Linked DNA regions of Homo sapiens. The protein of the gene in region 5 interacts with the protein of the main gene of each other region in a pairwise test. Each region holds a gene or a part of one and is shown on either strand. Other genes may lie near its edges. The genes, in order: MID2, SSX2IP, PRKCA, PARD6B, FRMD6, SETDB1 and YWHAG.

Region 1 (3,500 bases), on a different chromosome or scaffold from region 5:
ACTCCTCCACAAGACTTCTGGAAGATCATGGGACTGATCATGGTATTTGTTATGCTCATGTCTTCACTTTTAGACTGGGATCCCCACCCCTCTCCAAGTGAAGGGCTGTCTCTTTTCTTTTCTCTTAAACTTTCATCCTGCACAGGGAGAACTCAGAACTGGAGGCTGATTACCGACTGGCAGAGAGCACCAGTGCCAGCTCCTGTCTAATAGGTTATTAAAGCCTACTTAATATTTTATAGTACATGGAATTAATGTATGTTCTTTTCAATAATTAGTTTTTAAATCCAAACATTGAGTATTTTATACAAGATAGTCATCATATAAACATTAAAATGAGTATCAAAATAGCAGAACTAGAAGTCCTAAATCTGCTACAAACCCAAAAGGTTAATCCAAGTAACCAACAAATGGATTTGCCAAGGTAACACATGATAATTGACAGGAATCCTAAATACAATTCATAACACCTTTATCTTAATGCAGATTACACTGGCAGTTGCAGGGTTGAGGAACAAATGGAAAACAAACTTAATTTACCTATGACTACTGGTACAGCTTTCCATCTCCTCTAGGATTGCTTTTCCTAACCTCTGTTACCCAACAAAATATTTGTAAGTTTTTAAATGTTCAGTGGTTCACCTGGACAGGCAGTCATCTACACAATAAAAATGGCAATATATGTATGTAAGACATGTTATTGAATGTTAGGCTGAGAGGACCCCAAGTTCAGGTCAGAAACAAGGGACAGAGAACAGAGGCCTATTTGAAATCAAGCTTCTACTTCCCTGGGAACCACATGGATCCTAGCAACACTGAACAAAGGGCTATACACAAAGTGATCAAGGATCTGGATCGTAAACCATTTTTCTATCTCTGTGCTGTATATATTAAGACACTTCACTGTCATGAATTAGCATTGTCTGCCATGCCCATACATTATGCTCCTATCCAGGCAAATTGCAAATACTGGGATTTCATGTTTCAGGACGATTTCAGATTGTATGATGGGTTTGTTATCAGATTGTTCGGTCTCAGTAAGACGATGATCCAGAGACTGGGGATGCCGTTCATCAACCAGCGGAGTCTGACCTACGGGAAGGAAGCTGAGACAAAGCCCAAGGTCAGGCAGCCAGAGCTCTGCAGGGAGGCCAGAACCCAAGTAGGATAATGCTTACAAATGATACTTTGCCAACCCACTTAGGCTGAACCAGCATCCTAGAGTGTATTCAGGTGAATCCCACAAGGAAAAGGAAATAATGGGATGCTGGCACATTACTCAAAATCCCTCCACCACCCACACTTTAAGCATCTTATACTATCTAGTAGTCTTAGTAATTTATAGAATTTCTAAAAGAAAACTCAGCATCTGGGAGATTCATCATCAAAAGGATTATATCTGCCTATGGTCATAAAGAAGGGGAAGACAGAAAGAGAGAAACAAATAGAAACAGCCACAGACTACTTAAGCCCACAGAAAACTCTTAGCAGAGTTTTAATACATGAAAGTGGAGAAAGGAACATATTTAATATATTGAGGAGGTAAATAAAAAGTAGATTAGCTATCTGTACAAGAAGATAATTACAGCTGGAATTTCTTGTCTCAACACCACTCATCTGGTCTTCTCACTTGCTAGCATGACCCAACACACCAGTTGAGAAACACTTTTCTAGTCTCTTCTGTACACTGCTTAGTGATGAACACAATATTTTTTGAGAGACCTGAAGTACAGATGTTAGTGCAACACCATCTTGGTACCAAAATTTCATTTATCAAAATGTAAACAATTTTGAATTATCCAAAACTGTTGTATATCCAGTATCAACATGTTACATCTCATATTTTGATGATGCAATGTTCTAAGTCAAGACACCCAGCTTAATGAGTAAGGAGTGCTTCATGAACACAGAGCTTCATTCTCGCTTTTGTGCCAAAGAGAGGACAAAAACTTAATGCTAAATGGAAATGGAGCACCCCCTGGCCTCTACTAGCAGCCGAGCCCCATGGCCTAACAGCAAGGATATTACCAAGATTCATAAAGATTGAATGGCAGACACACACAAGACCAAGCAGGTATTTCCAAGAGCAGCCATTTGAGACATATTCTGTGCCCACAGCCCTGTCTTCACCCTTTTAAGGGCTCTGTGTCCCTGTCTGAAAAGACAGAGCTTGAGTTCTATGGGATAGAATGAGAAGACAACATTCTCTCCTCTTCACCAAGCCAATGAGGTTTGCTGAATGATGAAGACAGACATACTCCTTGTGTAGTTCCCTTGTCAATTATTGTGGTGTCAGCAGATTTTATGGGAGGAGGGATGAAGGAATGGACAGGCTCACTACTCAGAGCAATATTTGGATGCAATTGTGAGACTCCACTGGCACCACTTTAGGATCTGCGAGTTGAAGCAAGTTTCCCTGCTCTTAGGGAAGGGATTAACTAAATCAGTTTTATCTAAATCAATTTGCACCATTCAGATGATATGTTCATAAAGCAATCAAGTCACTCTGATTTACAGGAGTACTTCCCAGAGGTGGCCTTGCAGGGTGCAACATGCCAGACGAGAATTCTAGTAGTCATGAAAACAAATAAGAGGGACACAACCACCCTTTCATGTCCCTAGCCTCTACCCATGTCCTGCACAGCCCCTCCCTGACCTAATCCTGGAGTTGCAAGTATGGAGTTTGGCGTGGAACAAGCAGGAGGCCAAAATACTGGGCTAAATCTGGGGCCTCAGCCCAATCAGCAGAGGTCCTCTGCACATTATAGGTGCTTAATATTGTTGACTCTGCTACTAGGTGCTAATCATGCTTATATAGCCATACCCCAAATTATTTATGACACTTTTCATTAGAAGCTAACAAACTGCCCCCATATAGGCTAAAAAATGGGTGAGGTTATGTCTTCAAATTAGTCTGACTCAGATTGTTAGGTTAGAGTGCATTAGAAATGATTCAAGCCTCAACTTAAATTGATCATTATTACTCTGTATGCCTAGTTGCATGTATGTTTTCATTCAGTTGAACATGTATTGGAGAAAAACCAGATTTAGGACCTACGTACAATGATACGATTTGGCTCTGGGGGTGGGAAGCTAAAGGTTTTCAGTAAGCTAAGATTCCTGCTTACACCCAGTCAATCCACTAACTCAGTAAAAGGTAAAGGAAGTGCTTTCTTTGAAAAGTATAATGTTGGCTGGGTGTGGTGGCTCACACCTGTAATCCCAACACTTGGACTTGGCAGGTGGATCCCTTAAGCTCAGGAGTTTGAGACCAGACTGGGAAACATGGTGAATCCTGTCTCTACAAAATATTCAAAAATTAGCCGGGTGTGATGGTGTGTGCCTATAGTCCCAGCTACTAAGGAAGCTGAGATGGGAGGATTGCTTGAGCCAGAGAGGTCAAGACTGCAGCAAGCCATGATCACACCACTGCACTCCAGCCTGGGTGACAGAGCGAGACTTCGTCTCAAAGGAAAAAAAAAGTATAATGCTGAGGGTTT
Region 2 (3,500 bases), on a different chromosome or scaffold from region 5:
CAACTTTTAAGGTTAAAAGTCAGCTAAGAAGTCCAAATCAAATTTTAAAATTACTATTTATTGGTATTTCACTCCTCAAATAATGAAATGGTAATAGCATCTACTAAAGGCATTGGAAATAACAAAGAAACCAAACATAATTAATAAATCTACTCATCGTTTTTTCAATGATTTAGCCCAAATTCAATCATTGGTTATAGTTGTCAACGTGTGGTCCTGGGACCAGCAGCATCAACATCACCTGACTCAATAAAAATGCAAATTATCAAGTGCCACTACAGACCTACAGATTCAGAAACTTTAGTGGTGGGAGAACCTCCACGTAATTCTGACAAAGTTTGAGAATCACTGCTGTGTTCTATAGAATGTGGTTCAGTATAAATTAGTATTCTATTTATATGCACTTTCAATTAGAGAACACCAAAAAGGAATTCTTATCTAAGGGTCCTACAAAATGGATTCCAAGAATGATGTAAAAGTGTTCCAAAGCACTAAATGGAGGCTGAAAATAACAGTCCTAGGGAATGCCTGGCTAAGCAGCTTATTAAACCTTAGAGGATGGGGGGAAACTCTGAAAAATAAACAGTTCATCAGCTGAATATTCATTTATCCTATTCACATACTCTACAGCCCAGCAAGTCCACTCCTAGTGAAACCCAATCGAAACTCTTGCCTACGTATGCCAGGAGGTGTGCACCTATACAGCAGCATTCTTCACAATAGCGAGTAGCACAAGAGTATCACCCTGGAAACAACCCATATACCACCAACAGGAGAATGGATAAATTATGCCATATGCACAAAATGGAATATTATGCAGTAATCAGAAAACTTCAGTGACACATAATATAAATTTCAGTATTATAAAATGAAAAAATTTTCAGAAGATAGGGCATGTAATATATACAGTTTTAAATTATGTGATGCAATAAAACTATAAAAGACACCGAGAGAATGATGAATATAGGATTCAGTAAATAGCTGCCTCAGGTGAGGGACAGAGGAAAAAGGAATGGAGGGGCCCACAGGGTTATGCACAGGGTTAGGTGGTACTTACTGTATTATTAAAACTATAAATGGACCAATTAAACAAACGTGTCATGAGCCAAGGAATATAAACTAATTCTTTACACCTGAAGTCCTTTAAAATGCTTTAAATACATATATATAAAATGTTCCTCCAATATTTCAAACAATTCTAAATTCTACCCAGTCAGTTTGGCTGTGGAGGCACCAAGAGCCCTGGGTCCTTGGCCTTACTGCCAACTCAGGGGTTAAAATGTTTTGGGTCCCAAAACCCAAAGCCAATGACCCTCTTCCTTTAAAAGTACAAGAACAGGCAATTTGGGCTAGAGTTTCAGAGGATCTATGAAGCCATCCATTTGCAAAGGATCCATGGATGGCAAGTTAATAACTCCTGTACTAGCTAATTATGTGAAACTGGTAGGAGAGAAGCTGATGATGAACTCAAGAGCACCTAATGCATGCCAGATGGGGCTCCATTAGCTGTTATCACTTAATCCTCACGCTAGCCCTAGGAAGGAGTAAAGATAGCACTGGTTTATTGATGGAAGAAACTGAGGCAACAGATTAGGTAACTTACAGTTACAAACCTGGAAGACAGAAATAAAATCCAGCTATTTAACCTGGAAAGACTAAAAACTAGCTATTTATGATTCCAAAGCCTCACAGGCCTGGTTTCCTCCTGACATTCAACAAATATGCTGAGCAAATGATATCAATTCTCTGAGCCTATCGCCTCATTATAAAACAACATGGCTAATGATGGGTTGTACTTACAGATTATTTCTATGATGTTGGCTTGCTTTTATAGTCTAGATCCTATGCAGGGGGATATTCCTGAAATTTGGCTATAGAATAGAAAATAAAATCGAAGGCTATAGAATAGAGAATAAAATAGATAGGAAAGCACAACCAGATTACAATTAACAGGCAAATGAAAAGTATAGGCAGTGGCTGGAACCCATCTTGAATTTTAAGTATCTACTTTACACTATTTAGGCTCTATATACGATTTCAAAATTATTTAGTCCTACAATTCTTTTAGAACAATATTTCTCTACAAATCTCCTCCAAACTTAATGCTTGCAAAATAAGTTCTATTTGTAGCACCGTGGCACAAAAATATATTCTCAGTGCTGACTGTATGCCAAGAACTACACATGAAGTAACTTAAATACTTTTTTGCTTTTTATCTTAATTTTTAAAATTTTTTTACAAAAAGCATACAATACTTTTATAATCTGAAAAAAAAATCTTTGAGACAGATATTATAGTAAACTGGGCAATTAATGGTCAGGGACCAGCTGGCTGACTTAGTCAGTGACTGAGGATAGTGAAGAACAGGTAAGAAATAATTCAGGACATGGTGACAAGTACACAAAAGGGAGGCATCTACTCTCTCACATAAAAACCTGTCTTTGGCACTTGACAGATAATAGTGTCATTTAGATAAAGGGAACAGAGGAGTAAAGTTAGTAAAACTGGGTTTGGGCAAATGTGTGGAGATAATGAGCTTTGTGTAGCTTACTGGGTTTGGAGATGCCCTTATGAGACATTCACATGGGGATAAACTCTAGGCCTAGAACTCACAAGACATCCGAGCACATTTAGATAGATGAATTCATAAAGAAAAAAGGGGCAGGAGAACAAACCCCAAAGAACATCAACATAAGCGAGTGAAGCAGACCCAGACACAAGAGATACAAAGAGACAGGGGAACGGACTTCAGGAAAGCCAAGGGAGAAGACTTTTAAAGAGAAAGGGTGATACACAGCAGCAAATGCCATAGAATGGGCAGGTTTTGAATTTTAAAAAGTGTTGAATTCGGTGATTAGTGACTTAATGACAAAGCTGAGGGGTAAAAATGAAAATCAGACTTCAGAAAGATGATCACCAAATAAGAAAAGGAAAATCACTTGTTCAAGAATCTCAGTTTAAAAGAATGTTAGTTTCTCTGAATGTAGAGGCTTTATTAGACGCTCATGGATAGATCTAGCATGACAAAAAAAAAATCCTGTCTTTAAAGTCTGTTCTTACTCAATTACAGCATTTTTATATCAAGTAGAAATATTAAGTGCTCAGTAAGTATGAGCTATTTTTCCAGGCATTGTTCTGGATACTAACCTATTTTTCTAATCACACCCCTACGAAGCAGGTATTGTTATTATCCTTCATAAATGCGACAACCAGGGCACAAGATCACATAGCTAGTAGTGTGGTAGATCAAACCGAAAATGTGACTCAAGAGAATATGAGAAAAGGATATGTGTGAAGCAAGAGTTAAAAGATGAGAACAACTGGAGTTAAGATTGTTCTGAATGTTTAACTGCTTGTAGTTTCATTTCTATTTAAAAACTTATTTTTGCTAATTTGAAAGACTATTTCTTCTCTCATCTCAGAATCCTACATTGCTAGAGTCTGACATTTTTATGTCTGACACCCAGATTCTGTACTGCATTATAACTGTGTTATTTCTC
Region 3 (3,500 bases), on a different chromosome or scaffold from region 5:
TACTGTGAAGAGAGAAGGAAGAAAATATTACAAAAAGAGAACAGACCTATATTGCCCGCTGTCTTGTGTCAATACCAAGCTGAATAAAAGAGACGTCAGAATGGCGTTTAAGGAGACAGATGGTGGAAGCCAAAAGCCTCTAACACTCGACATGAGAAAAGCTACCCGCTGCCACCACCGGCAGAGATAATGGGCATCGTGTGGGCCCTTGTGGGTGGGTCTTGGGACTTAGCACCAGCCTGGACTGGCAGCATCAGCAACACTAAGATATCTATTAGAAATGCAGAAACCCAGGTCCCACCCCAAACCTGCCAAAGCAGAATCTGTAATTTAACAAGATTCCCAGGTGACCTTTGCAGCTCCCCAGGAGTAATGGTGCACCCTCCCTGCATGGAAGCGACCAGCCCAACCTGGTCTATGGTGCCACACACGCACCTGAGCTCCCAGAAGGTGTTATCCCTTTTTGTGGGTAAAGGCCAATGGCTTCCAACTCTGACTGTACATTGGAATCACATGGGGGTTGGGGAATGGGGGAGTTAAAAATTCTAATCCCCAGAATTAAACTAGAATCTCCAAGGAATGTGGCTCAAGTATTCGTTTTTAAAAGCTCCTTGGGTGATTCTACTGGGCAGCAGGGGCAAGCACCACTGCTGTATACAGTTGTAACTCAGAATTGCTGGTCCATGGACCGGCAGCATCTATATCACCTGGGAGCTCATTAGACATGCAGAACCTTGGGTCCCACCTCAGACTTAATAACTCAGAATCCTCACTTTAACAAGACCTCCAGGTGCTTCCAATGCAATCTTAGCTTGAGAAACCTGATATGGGAATCAAAAATAATTAGAAGGAAAGGCCATTTCATCCACAGAGGAAAACAGGCTCAAAGATTTAAGAGCTGGCAGAGGCTCACAACCATGAGAAGCTGTCTAAAGCCACTGCACGTCAACGTAAAAGATAATTATCTACTGCTATGATGAAGGGACAAAAGCCTGAGTCTCCTATCTCAAATGCCTTCCTATCTTCCCATGGCATCTTTCCCAGTAAGGCTGAATTATCAGATACCCAACTGGTCAGACACCATCAACACACATATAACTGGGACCAGGCTCCCTGATTCAGTGGTTCCCACAGTGTGGTCCCTGGACCGGCGGCACTGGCAACACCTCCTGAATCAGAACTCTGGGGTGAGGTCCAATGATCTGTGTTTACCAAGCCTCCAGGTGATTCTGATGTCCATAAAAGTTGCAGAACCACAGATCTAGGCAATTAGCATAGTTTATCAGCATAGTTTGATTATTAAATTAAGAATTACAGAAGAACTTGAGAAGAAGGCACTGGAGTTGTCAGTGGGCAGGGTTAGATGGGGAGGAGGCAGGGGGAGAACCCTAAAGATGTTGGGTCTTTGGACACAAATGAGGGAGGTACAGCCCTAAGATCGGAAGTCAGAGACAGGCATTGCCTTTACTAGTCTGTGGATCTACTGTGTTCTGCCTCCTGCCAGCCAACAGCCTTACATCCTCCTTACCTGGAAGCCTTACATAGGTAGGTAACAGATGGGACTATATTCAAATACAGAGGGGGAGGGGGCTAGCTCAGGTCTGCTAGCCACAGAGAAGCTGAACATAGTTTGTCATACCCCATTTGTGCCTTCCAAGTATTTCTTCTCCTAAGAAAATATCTAACCTCATTCATCTCAGGGAGCAGATAGCACACAAATAAAACACATAGGCATGGTCCCTGTGGCTCAGCAGGTGTACATGCAAACTCTGCCTCCTTCACCATGTAACCCTGAGCACTGGGAAGCTTAGTCTCTGAGCCTCTGTCTCTTCATCTAGAAAAATGAAGACGGACATAATTCCAGTGGTATAGAATTGTTGGGAGAATCAAATAAAATAATGTTTATAAAATACCTTACATGGTTGGGGGCTTGGAAAATGAAAAAATAAATCCATGGTGTGAGTGCTCACTATACCCCAGGCATGATGTTCCGGACTCCTTTCCACTCTTATCATGCTGGAATCTATAGGGTTGGAGGCCCCCAGGGGACTTGGTCACTGGAGAATTCACCAAGCTCATGTGAAAGGTTTTAATCCAATGCAGAAAGTCTAGCCCACTAAAACATCAACCCTGAGTATCACCAAAGATGAAAAATGTGAGCACAAAAATGGAGCTCTCCCATGAGGAATGGAAAGAGGCCAACGGTCTCTCTCTGATTAAACACCAGAATGAGAATCAGATGCTTTTTAAAAGGCAGAAAATGCCCTGGAATGTCTAATACTGGAGGCTGCAGAAGGTCACATCCTGGATAAGCCAAAGAAGACCCTTATTAAGGTCACCAAGAGGTCCTGGGTTGCCTCCTACCAGTTGCAGAATTATTGCGGGTGCTGGCTTTTATATCTTCAATTTATATTCCTGACAGACAACACACACAAAAAAAATCATTTAAGTAAGATCTCTTCGGAATGGTGATGAGTTAAAATCTTGATGGGATTTAAAGCTGTGAGTGTCCTACTGAGATACTACCATTTAAGTTGAAAATAAAAAGAGTTATCAATTCTAAATGTCATTGAAGCAAATAGTGGGTCCAAATTTCAATTTCTTATCACAGCAGAGAACAGCCTGTGTGAGTGTGACTCATGGCATGCCAGGACACCTGAATCAGGATTACGAGCAACTAACTTAGGGTCCCATCTGCTCAGAGTGTAGGATCTGGGGCAAGGCTGCCTGCATTTGAATTCTGGCTCTGCCACTCTGTGGTTGTGGACAAGCTATTTTATCTTCCTAAGTTTCCTCATCTGGAAAATTATATCTCCTTCAAGCAAGGATTATGTAGGCTCATCCATGTAAAGTGCTTAGAGCAGTGATAGGCACTCGGTGAGAGCACAATAGTGATGATCATAATTGCTCTTAATACAAGTTACTGGTGGAGAACAATCTTAGATGTGCAGAAACTGCACCAACAGCTTACGGAGTGGTAAGCAAATGCCGGGGAAAACAGTACAGTGTGGTAATGTTCTAACAGGGTTTCAACTGTATGGTTTCAAGAATGTCAGGCTAAGAGGCAATGCTAGGGGGCATTACTCATAGGAATAGTTGTAAGGAAGATGGAAGAGGGGAAGCTGGGGAAGCTAGGAAAGAGAAAATAAGAGGAAAATTGAAGTGGGGAAGCGGATGAGAACAAGGGCTAGAGACAGAAGAGAGAAACAAGGGAAAGATGTGATCAAGATGTGGAGTCAAATCCCAACACTTTGGGAGGCTGAGGCAGGTGGATCACATGATGTTGGGAGTTTGAGACCAGTCTGGCCAACATGGTGAAACCCCATTTCTACTAAAAATACAAAAAGAAGCCGGGCGTGCTGGTGGGCACCTGTAATCCCAGATACTCAGGAGACTGAGGCACGAGAATCGCTTGAACCCAGGAGGCGGAGGCTGCAGTGAGCTGAGATCATGCCACTGCACTCCAGCCTGGGTGACACAGTGAGACTCTATCCCCCCGA
Region 4 (3,500 bases), on a different chromosome or scaffold from region 5:
CCTTCTTTTGTATAAATATCCTAAGCAGTGGATTGGCCGTTGAAACAGCTTTGTGATAATTATCATCATTATTTATAGGTAGTAAGTCTCCATGGATGTCTGCATAGCCTACCAAAACGTCAACATTGGGGATCTTATGAACATGTTGTAGTAATCCATAAAACTCCTCAAATTTTCCAGGTTTTGATCTTTCCAGCGAAAACCGACGAAATTCAGCTCCAAACTATAAACGTAACAAACATATTACTTAAAAAAAAAAAAAAAAGTAAAAGGACCCAATTTGAAAATGCATGCCATAGAAAAATTAACGAGCAGAGCAAGTATTTTTAATTAAGGAAAGATTGTCTATTGTGAAGAACCTTACTATCAGGGATTTTAAAAAGCCTAAGAAAGGCACAAGAATGTGCCTCCTGACTGCTGTGTCTCTGAAGAGCATTCCTTTCAAGAGAGGCAGGCTCAACTCTATCTATCCCTGGGGTACCTAGGCCTTACTGCGGACTGTTCTGCATAGTGACTCAGCTCAAACCCTGTCTGGAGCCCAGACTCTGACGGCAATGCTCTCCTCAGGTGCATCATGGGGTACCAAAGACTTGTCCAAGTCCTTATTTTGACCAAAGGAAAGCATTTAAGTGTCCTCCCCCATAAATGGAACTAGGATTTCATGGTATGTGGTAAGAATCAACAGCAAAATATACAAAAAGAACTGTGAGCTACGTGGCGTTAAGGTATGATCTTCCCTATGTTAATGCAGAAAAAAATAAGCTTCAGTAATACATCAAATGTATGTCCTATAACTATCCAATTAACGCACAAAGTGTTTATGTGTTTGGCACAGTGCTAGGCCCTAGAGATTGAAAGCCTCGAGCCTGCTCCAGAAGCTCACCAATTAGTGGGTAAAGAGAATAATTACTTCAGGGAGGTATTAAGAGATCACACAAATGGGGCGGAATGGGGAGGAAGACAGCCTCCATCATGCCCAATACTTACCTTCACAGTTCTGATTCTGAAGTCTGTTTCCCTACACCTCTGTTTTCCCAATGTCAAATAATTAAAAGTGACTCTTATTCAACACTAAGAACTGAGGCCAGGCGCGATGGCTCACATCTGTAATCCCAGCACTTTGAGAGGCTGAGGCGGGAGGATCACAAGGTCAGGAGTTCAAAACCAGCCTAGCCAACATGGCAAAACCCGTCTCTACTAAAAATACAAAAATTAGCCAGGTGTGGTGGCACATGCCTGTAGTCCCAACTACTCAGGAGGCTGAGGCAGGAGACTCTCTTGAATCTGGGAGGCAGAGGTTGCAGTGAGTCGAGATCATGCCACTGTACTCCAGCCTGGGCAACAGAGCAAGACTCCGTCTCAAAAAAGAAAAAAAAAAAAAAAACCAAAACACTAAGGACTGGCTTCATCTAGTCCATGATAAACAGGATTTATAACACTGTGGGAATAACATGGCATTTCCTCAAACGTGGAAACCTAAGAAAAGTTAATCTGCCTTCCTCAAAAAGTGTCCCAGTCATGTAAGTTTGAGAAACGCTACATAATTATGCTCTTGGGAATCACTGCGGAGACCAGCACTTTAAAGGCTCATTTAAGCCCTATGTTGGTTTTTAAAAATATTTAAACGAACGTTTGCCTAATGTGTTTAACCACTGAACTCATATTTCTTCCACCTATCTATTACTAGCAAGAAATACTAATGTAAAAATATTATGTCCCAGAGAAAAAAGGAAAAGAGAAATACTGTTGGTACAGCCTTAAGCATCATGTAGAGAAAGCCCCTACCATAATAATTTGAGTTTACAAATATGTCACTTCATTTTCCCAAAGGTCCCATGGGACATCTGGATTCACTGGTTTTGCTCTATCTAAAGTTCACCTGCTCTGCTTACACCCATACTCCTCAGTGGTTTTAACATCAAAACTCACTAAAAACACCTCTTACCTCTAACAAAAATTAAAATAGTTCCCAAAACACATTCCTGAAACATAAACACTAACATCTGTCAAGAAAATAAGGTGACTCATACCTAAGGCTCTCAAAAAGTTTAGTCACACCTTCACATTTCAAAGTAAATAAAAACTCAGGGAACACCCTTCATATCAGTTAGTCTCATGATGTTATCAAAAGTCACAGTTTCTCCTCCATTTTCTTTATTCTGGTATCACAACATGAAGTTGCTAGTGCTTGCTGATTCATCCACAGGGTTTATCACTTCCCCTGATGTATGAATGGGAATAACATCTGATCATTTAACATTTTAGGGCTTCAATGTTTTTGTTAAAGCTTTTGGATGAAATTTCTTCGCTCAATATTTTCTCTTGCTTAACTGTTATGATAAAAACAATAAAAAATTGTATGGCTTCATGGTATATTTGCACTTTTGCCAATATTGGCATGGGAAAAAAAAACCCAAGAGAAATTGTTATGCTTCTTGCAACACAACAATAGGATTAAGGGAACTTTTTACATGAACAAAAACACTAAGAGACAAAATTAAGATTCAATCAGCAATTATTCACTTGTGAACCATTTACAACTGTTTCATAGCCTAGTTTGCCCTAGCCATCCAGAATGTGTATGGACTCCCTTCCCCCAGTGTCTGTTGGTACATTCTAGAAATGCAAACTTAATTTTCATAGTCTATTTGCCTATGAATAATAATTAGGAAATTTTATGACTCAAAGACTGTTCCAGGGTTATTAAAGGACATCATCAAGATTATTGATTAAGAATCTTCCCAACACTAGAGATACAATTAGGAAGATAAAACAGTTACCAAAGAAAAGTCACATACTAGCTGGTACCACAAATTGAACTATAGGTATATTTACATTCTCCATTCTTTTATCATTACTATTTTTCCCTTCCACGTGTGAAGATAATAATGTTGACACTACTGCTTTATTGCATTTTTTTATTTTTTTGAGACAGAGTCTCCCTCTGTCACCCAGGCTCTGAAGTGCAGTGGCGCAATCTCGGCTCACTGCAACCTCCGCCTCCCAGGTTCAAGCAATTCTCCTGCATCAGCCTCCGGAGTAGCTGGGATTACAGGCATATGCCATCACGCCCCACTAATTTTTATATTTTTAGTAGATACAGGGTTTCACCGTGTTGGCCAGGCTGGTCTTGAACTCCTGACCTCAGGTGATCCGCCCACCTTGCCCTCCCAAAGTGCTAGGATTACAGGTGTGAGCCACCATGCCTGGCCAACATTACTGTTTATATGAAGAAAAAGAGATCCTAAAAATGGACCGGAACCCAGTGTGGTGGCTAATGCCTATAATCCAAACACTTTGGGAGGCCTAGGTGGGAATATCACTTGAGCTCAGGAGTTAGAGACCAACATGACCAACATGGCAAAACCCTGTCTCTAAAAAGATAAAAAAAAATTGAAAATAGTAAGAGAAAAATGGACCAGCTAGGTGCAGTGGCTCACGCCTGTAGTCCCAGTACTTTGAGAGGTAGAGACGGGCGGATCACTAGAGCTCAGGTGTTC
Region 5 (3,500 bases):
TTAAAGTCTTAGCTGATTCCATAAGGAACTTAACAGATGGAAAGAATTATGCAATGTGAGCAAGAGTCGTGCTTAAAATAATCAAAATTTAAAAATTACAGACTTTTTGGTTTTAAAATGTCTTTATATTGACATTTTGTTTCTTCCTATTGAATATTTTACAGAGAATTAAATATGATGAATTAATAGTCAGTTGTCAAGTTCTGCTAAGAACTCAAGTTACACAGATTTTTCTTTCCAGGTTCTTTTCACATGGTAATCAGTTAAATCAGTTATTTATCAACCTTTTTTTCAGGTCAAAAGCACACTGAAAACAGTATTTGTAAGGGCACTAAAGCAGATGGCTTTGGTGATCCCAAGGGTGGGGGAAACTGATATCTCAGCACACTGGTTGCCCTGGCATACTAACTGGATTTCAATAATCAATATTCAATGAGCACCTGATGACAACCAGAGAATGCAAACATGCTACAGACAGCAATAGTTTGACAGACATTGTGATTTCTCTCCAAAAAAATGAAGCACTCTAAGTCACACAACAAAAAATTACTGAGTACCTCAATATGAAGAGCTGATGAAATAGAAAAGGTTAAGGTTATGCCCGTCTTTCAGAACACACTAAGAAACAGTTTACTGGGAGCAAGAAATAAATCATTTTAAAATAAGATGTAAAACACTATTCCCAGGTTCTTCTTGAGCACTGGGCACCTAGATGGTCTGCCCAGAAGGAGCGACACCTGGGCTGAGTCTCGGAGGATGAGTAGGAGTTAGCCAGGTGAAACAGAGAGGGGCTTCACTGGCTAAAGGAACTGCAAGAAGAAAGACCTGAAGCATGAAACACCACAGTAAGTATGGAGACACACCAATGGCTGGATGTTGCCAGAGCCTAAAGTTCAAGGTGCAGGACAACCAGAAAGGAAGCTGGAATGGCTGGCAGGGACTATAATCTGGAGAGTTTCTAGGTTATGCATGGGAGCCTGAGCTTCACTCCACAGGTGACAGAGGAGGCCCTGAAAGTTTAAGTCAGAAGCAAAATCATCTCATCTGCAAGCTGTGGAGTAAAGACCGAAGCAGGGACAAGTTTCTGCAACAGTGCTGCTGAGAACACGAACCTAGAAACAGCAGGAGCTAAGACAGGGAGAGGAGGCAATGGACATTTAGGAAGGCTAATGGCAATAAAAATAGAAGATAATTTTATTTCTTAAGCTGGGTGATTGGTATTCAAGCACAGACATTACAAGGTGTTACAGTTGATGGGACAGGACAGGGAGAAGGAATGGTGATAAGGCAGAGTTCCGTATGACTCCCACGTACTCAGAGGTAGGAATACGTAGAAATGAGGTGGCAAGAAAATGAATTTGATTTAGGACATCTTGAGTTTGAACGGCCTATGGGTAAACAGCTACCTTATGGATATAGGGGAAAAAACCAGATTTGGGACTTGCCTTCACATAGGTGATCGTTAAAAGCATTAATTTGGATGAGATCTCCCAAGATGTGAGTAGTTAAGTGTCAGGTACAGCAGCAAAATTTAGTGAAAAGAGTCTGCTGGATATGTTAATATAAAGCAACTGGTGTCAATATAAAGCAAAAGTAGTGCATATTTAATTTTTTACTTCTTTACTGTATTGATATAAAGCAACCTAACAGGCAGCACCATGAGTGGACTGATGGGGAAAGAAGGCAGATGGAAATGGCTTGAGGAACACTTGTGGGAAGTAAAGAAGCTGAAAAAATCAAATACACACTACCTCTTCAAGATGCTTTACTGAGAAGGAAAGGCAAGAGTAGTAGCTCTTCTTTCCCTCCCCACTTTCTTTCTCAAGGATGGGTGGGTGAGAACCAAACATGTTTTGCATGTTCTCACTGAAGAAGAGTTACTTTGGGGAGGGGCTAATGATATAGAAGAGAGACAGAAAATACAGCCTAGACATGGAGGAAGGACGGGAAGAGAAACAGACAGGGTGGAGTGGAGAAAGCGCAGCTGAGACAGTTCACGTTGGAATAACCCACATTTTCTTGCTGAAAGAAGGGGTTAGTTCCTCCCCGAGAGTGGAGGACATGGAGGCCGGAGCCAGAAGTTGACATACTTGTTCTCGCAGCAAAGGAAAGCGAGGAATAATCTTACTTTTTAAAGAGTTATGTTTTTCTGCCTTCAAAGGGAGAAAATACTGCTTCGGTAAGAGTAGGCAAGAAGGTCAAGGGCATGTCAATGCTGAAAGGAGGCTGGTAAATTCCAAGCTCCACTGTATTATCAGGATGGATGGCAATTCTCTACCCCACTCACCATAAGCAGACTAAGTACATGAAGACATGATGTGCACCACGTTCTTAAGCATTAAATATCTGGGCATCACAAAGAATTTGGCCACAGAACATCTGTGTTCCCATTTCTTAAAGAGTATGAGTAGCAACACTACGAACTAGAAATGCCCGAGAGAAAACACTCTTTCGAATTTGAAAACAGTGCTTACCCAAGATGGGAAGTAAGCCTCTGGCTCGAAGTATTTTCCATAGTGCTTATTCCTTTTGAAGTTCCCAAGATCAGCCTGCAGGGCAAAGGCTGCCAGCAGGAAGTAGGCCTCCTCTCGGAGCACACACTGAGAATGAAGAACTTGTTTTCTCAGGTGCCAGTAATAATAGTATCTTGCTGCTCTGTCACTAGAAAAATAAAAGAAAACAGAACTCACATTTTGATGGAATAATCCAATGACATGTAAACAGAACCCAAATCCTTCTCTCCATCTGGTGACAGGAACCCTTCTGTTTCTGCTCCTCCCTCCCACCTCACTGAAAAGGAAGCGGTTGTAGCTAATATCTGATAGCTGCCTCACTGAGGTTGCAGGGGGTCAGAACCCCAAATCAGACTATCCAGACAATAAAAATAACGTTTCCTAAGGCTTACAGCATTTGATTCATTCAGAGAAGAAAAAGGTCTGAATCATTCCACTCTAAAATGGTAAATATTTCACTGAACAAGTATTAGAATAGAAACTAGACATGTGTTGTCTGTACTAATGTTGCTACAATGATGCTACACACGTGACATAAATAAGGAAAAATCTGAGGAGCAATCCTGCTTCAGTGTTTTGCTGTTCTTTTTATTATTTTTTAACTGAACACACTACAAATACTCTAAGGCCCTTTATAAGTATTTGCATATATACTCTTCTGGAAAAAAATTTGCTTAACAAAGGTTTCTTTTCCGTTTTTTAAACTTCTCCAAGAAGAAATGCAATGAATGCTTTCCTTAAATCTTTTTTTGGGGATTTTTTTGAAGTGAATGTTACATTACTGTTATGTTTTTACAGGCACATGTCACGACAATTATTATACTCCCCACAAAAGGAAATACTAACAGAGCACTCATTACAATCTCTTGAGATCAGAAATAAATACAGTCATCATTAAATACGTTAAGAAATGCTGACTGGGGAAAACATGGTAAAAGCTCCAAAAAATATTTACTGGCAAATAGGATGCTTTTGTGATCAAAGTAA
Region 6 (3,500 bases), on a different chromosome or scaffold from region 5:
GGCCCCGGGTCTGCCTCCGGGTAGCATAGCTCCGCCACACTGAACTGGTGCTGAAGTCCTCATCCTTACAGAAGTTATCATCTGAGCTATCATCATTGGACTCTTCAGGGTCCTCTGTACCGCTGTTGCCATCTTCCTGGTCCTTCAAGTCTACACCACTGCTGTCAGAGGAACAGGGGGCATCACTCTCATATCCTTCTTTGAAGTTCTCCACGCTCTCGATATGGTCCAGATTTGCAAAGTACTCATCACCCATTTCCAGACCCTCCTTGTCTGCAAAGTCATCTGTCAGGATTTTGCCTGAGAATGAAGAGAATTAAAGGCCTTCTAGGGTTATGGGGACCTATTAGTTTTTTTTTTTGTTTGCTTTTTTTTTTTTTTTTTTCCAGATGGAGTCTTGCTCTGTCACCCAGGCTGGAGTGCAGTGGCGCGATCTCGGCTCACTGCAACCTCTGCCTCCCAGGTTCAAGTGATTCTCCTGCCTTAGCCTCCTGAGTAGATAGGACTACAGGTGCACGCCACCATGCCTGGCTAATTTTTTTTGTATTTTTGGTAGAGATGGCGTTTCACCATGTTGGCCAGGTTGGTCTCGAACTCCTGACCTCAGGTGATCTGCCCGCCTCAGCCTCCCACAGTGTTGGGATTACAGGTGTTAGCCACCGCACCCGGCCACGGGGACCTATTAGAAAGAATAAGGATTATTCCATCAATACCCGCTCTACCAGCATATAGAGTCAAAAAGCCTCCATTCTGGTCTCTCATTTCTGTTTTTTTTTTTGTTTTGTTTTTGAGACAGAGTTTCGCTTTTGTCACCCAGGCTGGAGTGCAGTGGCATGATCTCGGCTCACTGCAATCTCTGCCTCAAGGGTTCAAGTGATTCTCCTGCCTCAGCCTCCCAAGTAGCTGGGATTACAGGCATCCACCACCACACCTGGCTAATTTTTGTATTTTTAGTAGAGATGGGGTTTCAACTATGTTGGCCAGGCTGGTCTCCAACTCCTGACCTCAGGTGATCCACCCACTTCGGCCTCCCAAAGTTTTGGGATTACAGGCATGAGCCACCACGCCGGCCCAGTGTTTCTCTTTGATAATACCTCCCTTTGTATCTTAACTATGAAAGTATGGAGAACTTACTGTCATTTTAAATCTTGCCCTTTCTGTCTTTCCATTTCTTCTACTTTATTGAAACAGAGTACTGGGCTATGCTAAAAGATCTCTGAGTGGAGTGACATGGGAGAAAATGATACACTGGACTCTATAATCATGTCTGTTCTCTGAAATATCACCATGTCCAAAATTTCATCCCTTTTCATTCTCTTATTTGTGAAACACTTGTGTCCCTCTCTGGTCTAGCTAGACAGGTACATCACTCATCACGTTCTTTGTAGAAGTCCCTGGCCTCCTCTTACTCCAGTTCACATGTCAAGCACTTTCTTCTTATGTTCAATTTGTCTCTGGTTCAATTCCCTACCATGTCCCAGTCTCAGGAAACAACCCTTATATTTTATCACCAACCTGCATAAATACAAACAAAAGAGCCTTTGGCAATGTCATCCAAGCAGCGGATACCCCAGCCCTTGTTCTGTGTCTTGAATAGCTGTAGCCGAACTTGTAGTCCATGTTGCACCAACCGGTTTGTGCACATGTTTGGGTCACATTTGCAGCGTTTGTTACACTCATATACCCTGGGAGGAGGTTAGAATAAAATCAATCACGGTATGATCACTAGAGCACAAAAAAATCCATAAAACTATTATAATTCTTAAGCTATCATCATTTATAATGTGTTGTGGATAAAGATTAAAAATTAGGTAATGATCTAAGTGAGTGGATCTATTGAACCATCTATGCTCTTTGATTCATTTGGAAATGTAGCCCAAGGAAAAAATTTAGAGGGCGGAGAAATATTTATAAAGATGTCTATAGCAAGACAGCTCATAAAAGTGAATGCTAGAGTGCCTAACACCTGGAGAAAAGCTAAGTAAACTATAATGGGAATACAGATTACAGAGCCATTAAAATAAGCACTATATGGACGGTCAATTTGTAGAAATAGATGCACAAAATAAAGACATGTGAGAAATTCCTGGTGAGGTTTCTTACTAACAACAGCAAAAATAATAATAATAATAAAAATAAATAAATGTGAGAAAAACAGAGGCCAACATAACAGATACGAAAGGGAATAAAGAGATAGGAGGAACTGTGACTAATGTTCATGGTAAAGTTGATTTTCATTCTTTCATTCAGTAAACAATTATTAAACACCAAGAGCTCTACTAAACACTGGAAACATAACAATGAAAAAGATCGTGCTGGGCGTGGTGGCTCATGCCTATAATCCCAGCACTTTGGGAGGCCAAGGTGGGTGGATCACGAGGTCAGGAGAGTGAGACCATCCTGGCTAACACAGTAAAACCCCGTCTCTAATAAAAATTAAAAAATTAGCCGGGTGTGGTGGCATGCATCTGTAGTCCCAGCTACTTGGGAGGCTGAGGTAGGAGAATTCCTTGAACCCAGGAGGCGGAGGTTGCAGTGAGCCAAAATCAAGCCACTGCACTCCAATCTGGGCGACAGGGTGAGACTCTGTCACAAAAAAAAAAAAAAAGAAAAAAGAAAAAAAAGAAAAAAAAAAAGGTCATAATTTCTACCCTCAGGGAGCTCTTTTTTTTTTTTTTGGAGACAGAGTTTCGCTCTCATTGCCCAGGCTGGAGTGCAATGGCGCAATCTCAGCTCACAACCTCCACCTCCCGTGTTCAAGTGATTCTCCTGCCTCAGCCTCCCAAGTAGCTGAGATTACAGGCACGCGCCACCGTGCCTTGCTAATTTTGTATTTTTAGTAGAGATGGAGTTTATCCATGTTGATCAGGCTGGTCTCGAATTCCCGACCTCATGTGATCCGCCTGCCTTAGCGAACCAAAGGGCTGGGAGTACAGGTGTGAGCCACCGTGCCCAGCCCAGGGGAGCTCATATTCTATCTAATTTAAGAATTTGGGCCAGGCGCAGTGGCTCATGCCTGTAATCCCAGCTACTGAGGATGCTGAGGTGAGAAGATCACTTGAGCTCAGGAGTTCGAGGTTTCAGTGAGCTATGATCATACCACTGCGCTCCAGCCTGAATGACAAAGCAAGTCCACCCCATCTCTGAAAAAGAAAAAAATTTTAATTATTTTTAAACAACCATTAAAGGTAATCAGAGGGATCTAGCACATACCAACATTAAAGGAAGATAACACAGTTATACTAAGAAAACTAATTGTTTCAGGTAACAATGTTTTTGCTCTATTTGCCCAGTGTTAGAATTTTACTTATTTTCTTGGTATGTAAAATCAATGGAAGAAATTTACTTTGGAAATGTATCAACAGCTCAGTTAGTTCACGATTTTAGTCATATCCTCTCTCCAGATAAAGATGGTAAGAGCAGCTTCTAGTTACTAAGCATATACTTTTGTGTTTGGCATTGTGTGAATGCCTTATATATACATATTCTATCCTTAAAGC
Region 7 (3,500 bases), on a different chromosome or scaffold from region 5:
AATGCAGCCCAACACAAATTCGTAAACTCTATTAAAACACTGAGAATTCTTTTTGCGATTTTTTTTTTTTTTTTAGCTCATCAACTATTGTTAGTGTTAGTGTATTTTATGTGTGGCCCAAGGGAATGTGGCCCAGGGAAGCCAAAAGACTGGACACCCCTGTACTAAACTCCTGGGGCATGGGGGAACTGAACTACCAGGAGACTTTTTTTTCTATGTTTGAATCATTATGTTCAGTATGTTGGCCCATGCCTGTAATCCCAGTGCTTTGAGACACCAGGTGGGGAGGACTGCTTGAGGCCAGGAGTTCAAGACCAGCCTGGCCAACATAACAAGGCCCCATCTCAAAAAAAAAAAAATTTTTTTTCTTAAATTATAAACGGGGGGTATGCTTGGCAAAAGTGATTACAGTCATTACTTCAAGCAGCATCTACTCAGAGATAATTAAATCAAAACATAAACCAAATCATGCTTATTAGTTTATGGCAGGCAATTCATTTTCTGAATGAATGATCAGCAAGTGCTACACGCTCAAATATTCTCTAAACTGATTAGTGGTGTTGTTAAAGTTAACATTTTCCTAGACATTACTGATGCTCTGTTTTAATGCTGGACAACGTTACTCCTACCAGCCGTGCCCTCAGTGAAACAGACTCAAAAGAGGGGAAGAATAGGGGGTGGGTACTACTTGAGTTCAGAGCAGAAGGAAACCAGGAAAGAGATGCTTTGCTCCACCACCTCTTGTTCCCGGCACTTCTGCAAACACTCCTCCTGCATGAATAAACACAGGCACCTCGTGTCTCATTCTGCACTGACGATCTGTCATCCAGCAGACCGCTGTCACTCATGCTGAATTCTGATGTGTCCACAAATAACGGAAGATTGGGCTTTTCCCAGCTCCATCATTCGCTAAGCAATCTTGGGGACAAGCCGCTTCATTTCTCTGGGCTTTGGTTTTCTTATCTGCAAAATGGGGATTTCTGCTTCTTTCATAAGGTAATATACAGGTATATCAGACAAATAAGAAAGTCTTTTTTTGTTCTTTTTGAGACATGGTCTTACTCTGTTTCCCAAGCTGAAGTGCAGAGGCATGATCACACCTCACTGCAGCCTCAAACTACTGGGCTCAAGCAATCCTCCCACCTCAATCTCCAGAGTACCTGGGACTACAGGTGTGCACCACCATGCATGGCTGATTTCTTTTTTTTTTTTTTTTGGAGACAGAGTTTCAAAAAGACCTGGTCTCACTCTGTTGCCCAGGCTGGAGTGCAATGGCATGATGTCGGCTCACTGCAACCTCCCCCCAAGTTCAAGCGATTCTCCTGCCTCAGCCTCCCGAGTAGCTGGGATTACAGGCGTGTGCCACCATGCCTGGCTAGTTTTTGTATTTTTAGTAGAGACAGCGTTTTGCCATGTTGGCCAGGATGGTCTCAAACTCCTGGCCTCAAGTGATCCACCCGCCTCAGTCTATGGCTGATTTATTTATTTCTTTATTTAGAGATGGGGTCTCACTATATCAATCCGCTGGAAGTGCAGTGGCACTATCTTGGCTCACTGCAACCTCAGCCTCCCAGGGCTTCAAGCAATCCTACCTTAGCCTCCTGAGTGGCTGGGACTAAGGCACATGCCACCACACCCAGCTAATTTTTGTATTTTTCTGTAGAGACAAGGTCTTGCCATGTTGCCCAGGCTGGCCTTGAACTCCTGGCCTCAAGTGATCCACCCACCTTAGCCTCCCAAAGTGTTAGGATTACAGGTGTGAGCCACTGCATCCAGCCATTTAAAAATTTTTAGTAGAGACAAGGTCTCACTATGTTGCCCAGGCTGGTCTTGAACCCTTAGTTCAAGTGATCCTCCCACCTTGGCCGCTCAGAGTGCTGGGATTACAGGTGACAGCCATTGTGCCCAGCAAAGTCTTCTTGAAAAAGTAAAATGCTACAGAAACATGAGGAACTACTTTTAAGAATACCCTGAATAATTTTCCTTCATTTTAGTTCTCACCACAGGGGATGTCTACATTTCCTAACGATCTCCCAGCTCATCTTCCTGTATCGAGTGTCTCTTCTCCGTTTCATCCTCTTCTCTATATTAAGCGGAAACTGCCTTAGCTGCCTCACATCGCTTCCTTTCCATAAACCCTAGTTCCATACAGCCTGAAAAAAAACTGCCCAGACTTGGCTTTGGAAGGAGCTGAGCCCTTGGGCGCTGCTGCCACCCATCTCTGGCATACTTTACTGAGTGTGCGAATGCTGAAGACAAACCGCCCCGCGGTGCAGCCCTCATGACTGCCTCCAGTGCAAGGAGAGGCCAGCGTGCCGAAGGCCACAAAGATCAAGTTCTGGCCTTTCCCCTAAATCATGTTGTCCTTATTTCAAGGGCCAGGAGCTATTTAAAGCTCAAATTATCTCACCAGTCCTGGGGGCACTCCTCCTGCCACAAATGAAGTCTCCCAGCAGTGCCCAGAGAGGCAATCTGTACTTATGTAAAGTCTGCCTAGCTGTCCCCAGACACATTGGAACAAGGAGATTATGAAATGCCAGGATCACCTTTGGATACAGTAGCTCGACCACATTTGGAACACGCCCAGATGTTCCCTGCCAGTGAAAAACTAAGTTAGAGGGGAAACCCTTCAGCTCTAAAAAGTCTAAAGAAAAGTTGTTCTGAACACCTTAAATCAAAATTTTTAAAAATCCTTTATCCTTTAGATCATAATTACTTGCATAAGAATCTGTTATTTTTAAATTAAAATAAGAGATCCCCACCATATTAGTTTTAAAGGTCAACAGATAACCTCTTAAAAGAACAAGTTATTCTAATAGTGTCTAAAATGATTTAATCAAGACAGAATGACAGAATGACTATTCAATGTGGGAAGATACGGGATCTTGTATCATTTGGGAAGGGAGGTAACATTTTTCAAAACAGTCATTAAATTTGTTGTTGTTGTTTAAACAGAGACAGGGTCTCACTCTGTTGCCCTGGCTGGAGTACAGTGGTGCAATCACAGCTCACTGCAGCCACGCCACAAACTCCTCTGCCTCAGCCTCCAGAGAAGCTGGGACTACAGGCATCTACCACCACGCCCCCTAATTTTTGTATTTTTTGTAGGGACCAGGGTCACCCTATGTTGTCCAGGCTGGTTTCGAACTCCTGAGCACAAGTGATCCTCCAGCCTTGGCCTCCTAAAGTTCTGGGATTACAAACATGAGCCATTCTGCCTAACCTTCTTCTTCTTTAAAAAAAAAAAGAAAGAAAGAAAGAAAAGAAAAGAAATGGGGTCTCACTCTGTTGCCCAGGCTGGAGAGAAATGGCGTGATCACAGCTCACTGCAGCCTCAACTTCTCAGGCTCAGGTGATCCTCCCACCTCAGCCTCCCATCACACCCTGGTTAATAAATTGTTTCTACGAATGCAACACTTGTAAACATGGTCCCCAAAATTTACTGTCATGGCTGTTGGAAAATGTAGAAAGTTTCAGTTTTTATTCCCCAGAGTTGTATG

Evidence for each region.
Region 1: the proteins of FRMD6 (region 5) and MID2 interact in binary tests that used the Homo sapiens proteins (3 or more experiments, as listed by UniProt).
Region 2: the proteins of FRMD6 (region 5) and SSX2IP interact in binary tests that used the Homo sapiens proteins (3 or more experiments, as listed by UniProt).
Region 3: the proteins of FRMD6 (region 5) and PRKCA interact in binary tests that used the Homo sapiens proteins (3 or more experiments, as listed by UniProt).
Region 4: the proteins of FRMD6 (region 5) and PARD6B interact in binary tests that used the Homo sapiens proteins (3 or more experiments, as listed by UniProt).
Region 6: the proteins of FRMD6 (region 5) and SETDB1 interact in binary tests that used the Homo sapiens proteins (3 or more experiments, as listed by UniProt).
Region 7: the proteins of FRMD6 (region 5) and YWHAG interact in binary tests that used the Homo sapiens proteins (3 or more experiments, as listed by UniProt).

The regions. Positions count from the first base shown.
Region 1 is NC_000023.11:107,828,866-107,832,365, reverse strand, and holds part of MID2 (probable E3 ubiquitin-protein ligase MID2), read right to left. Parts: intron 1-3,500. UniProt on the Homo sapiens protein: E3 ubiquitin ligase that plays a role in microtubule stabilization. Mediates the 'Lys-48'-linked polyubiquitination of LRRK2 to drive its localization to microtubules and its proteasomal degradation in neurons.
Region 2 is NC_000001.11:84,683,962-84,687,461, forward strand, and holds part of SSX2IP (afadin- and alpha-actinin-binding protein), read right to left. Parts: intron 1-3,500. UniProt on the Homo sapiens protein: Belongs to an adhesion system, which plays a role in the organization of homotypic, interneuronal and heterotypic cell-cell adherens junctions (AJs).
Region 3 is NC_000017.11:66,683,613-66,687,112, reverse strand, and holds part of PRKCA (protein kinase C alpha type), read right to left. Parts: intron 3-3,500; coding exon 1-2. UniProt on the Homo sapiens protein: Calcium-activated, phospholipid- and diacylglycerol (DAG)-dependent serine/threonine-protein kinase that is involved in positive and negative regulation of cell proliferation, apoptosis, differentiation, migration and adhesion, tumorigenesis, cardiac hypertrophy, angiogenesis, platelet function and inflammation, by directly phosphorylating targets such as RAF1, BCL2, CSPG4, TNNT2/CTNT, or activating signaling cascade involving MAPK1/3 (ERK1/2) and RAP1GAP.
Region 4 is NC_000020.11:50,734,580-50,738,079, reverse strand, and holds part of PARD6B (partitioning defective 6 homolog beta), read right to left. Parts: intron 224-3,500; coding exon 1-223. UniProt on the Homo sapiens protein: Adapter protein involved in asymmetrical cell division and cell polarization processes. Probably involved in formation of epithelial tight junctions.
Region 5 is NC_000014.9:51,703,910-51,707,409, reverse strand, and holds part of FRMD6 (FERM domain-containing protein 6), read right to left. Parts: intron 2,662-3,500; coding exon 2,475-2,661; intron 1-2,474.
Region 6 is NC_000001.11:150,957,363-150,960,862, reverse strand, and holds part of SETDB1 (histone-lysine N-methyltransferase SETDB1), read right to left. Parts: intron 1,686-3,500; coding exon 1,516-1,685; intron 301-1,515; coding exon 1-300. UniProt on the Homo sapiens protein: Histone methyltransferase that specifically trimethylates 'Lys-9' of histone H3. H3 'Lys-9' trimethylation represents a specific tag for epigenetic transcriptional repression by recruiting HP1 (CBX1, CBX3 and/or CBX5) proteins to methylated histones.
Region 7 is NC_000007.14:76,331,492-76,334,991, forward strand, and holds part of YWHAG (14-3-3 protein gamma), read right to left. Parts: intron 1-3,500. UniProt on the Homo sapiens protein: Adapter protein implicated in the regulation of a large spectrum of both general and specialized signaling pathways. Binds to a large number of partners, usually by recognition of a phosphoserine or phosphothreonine motif.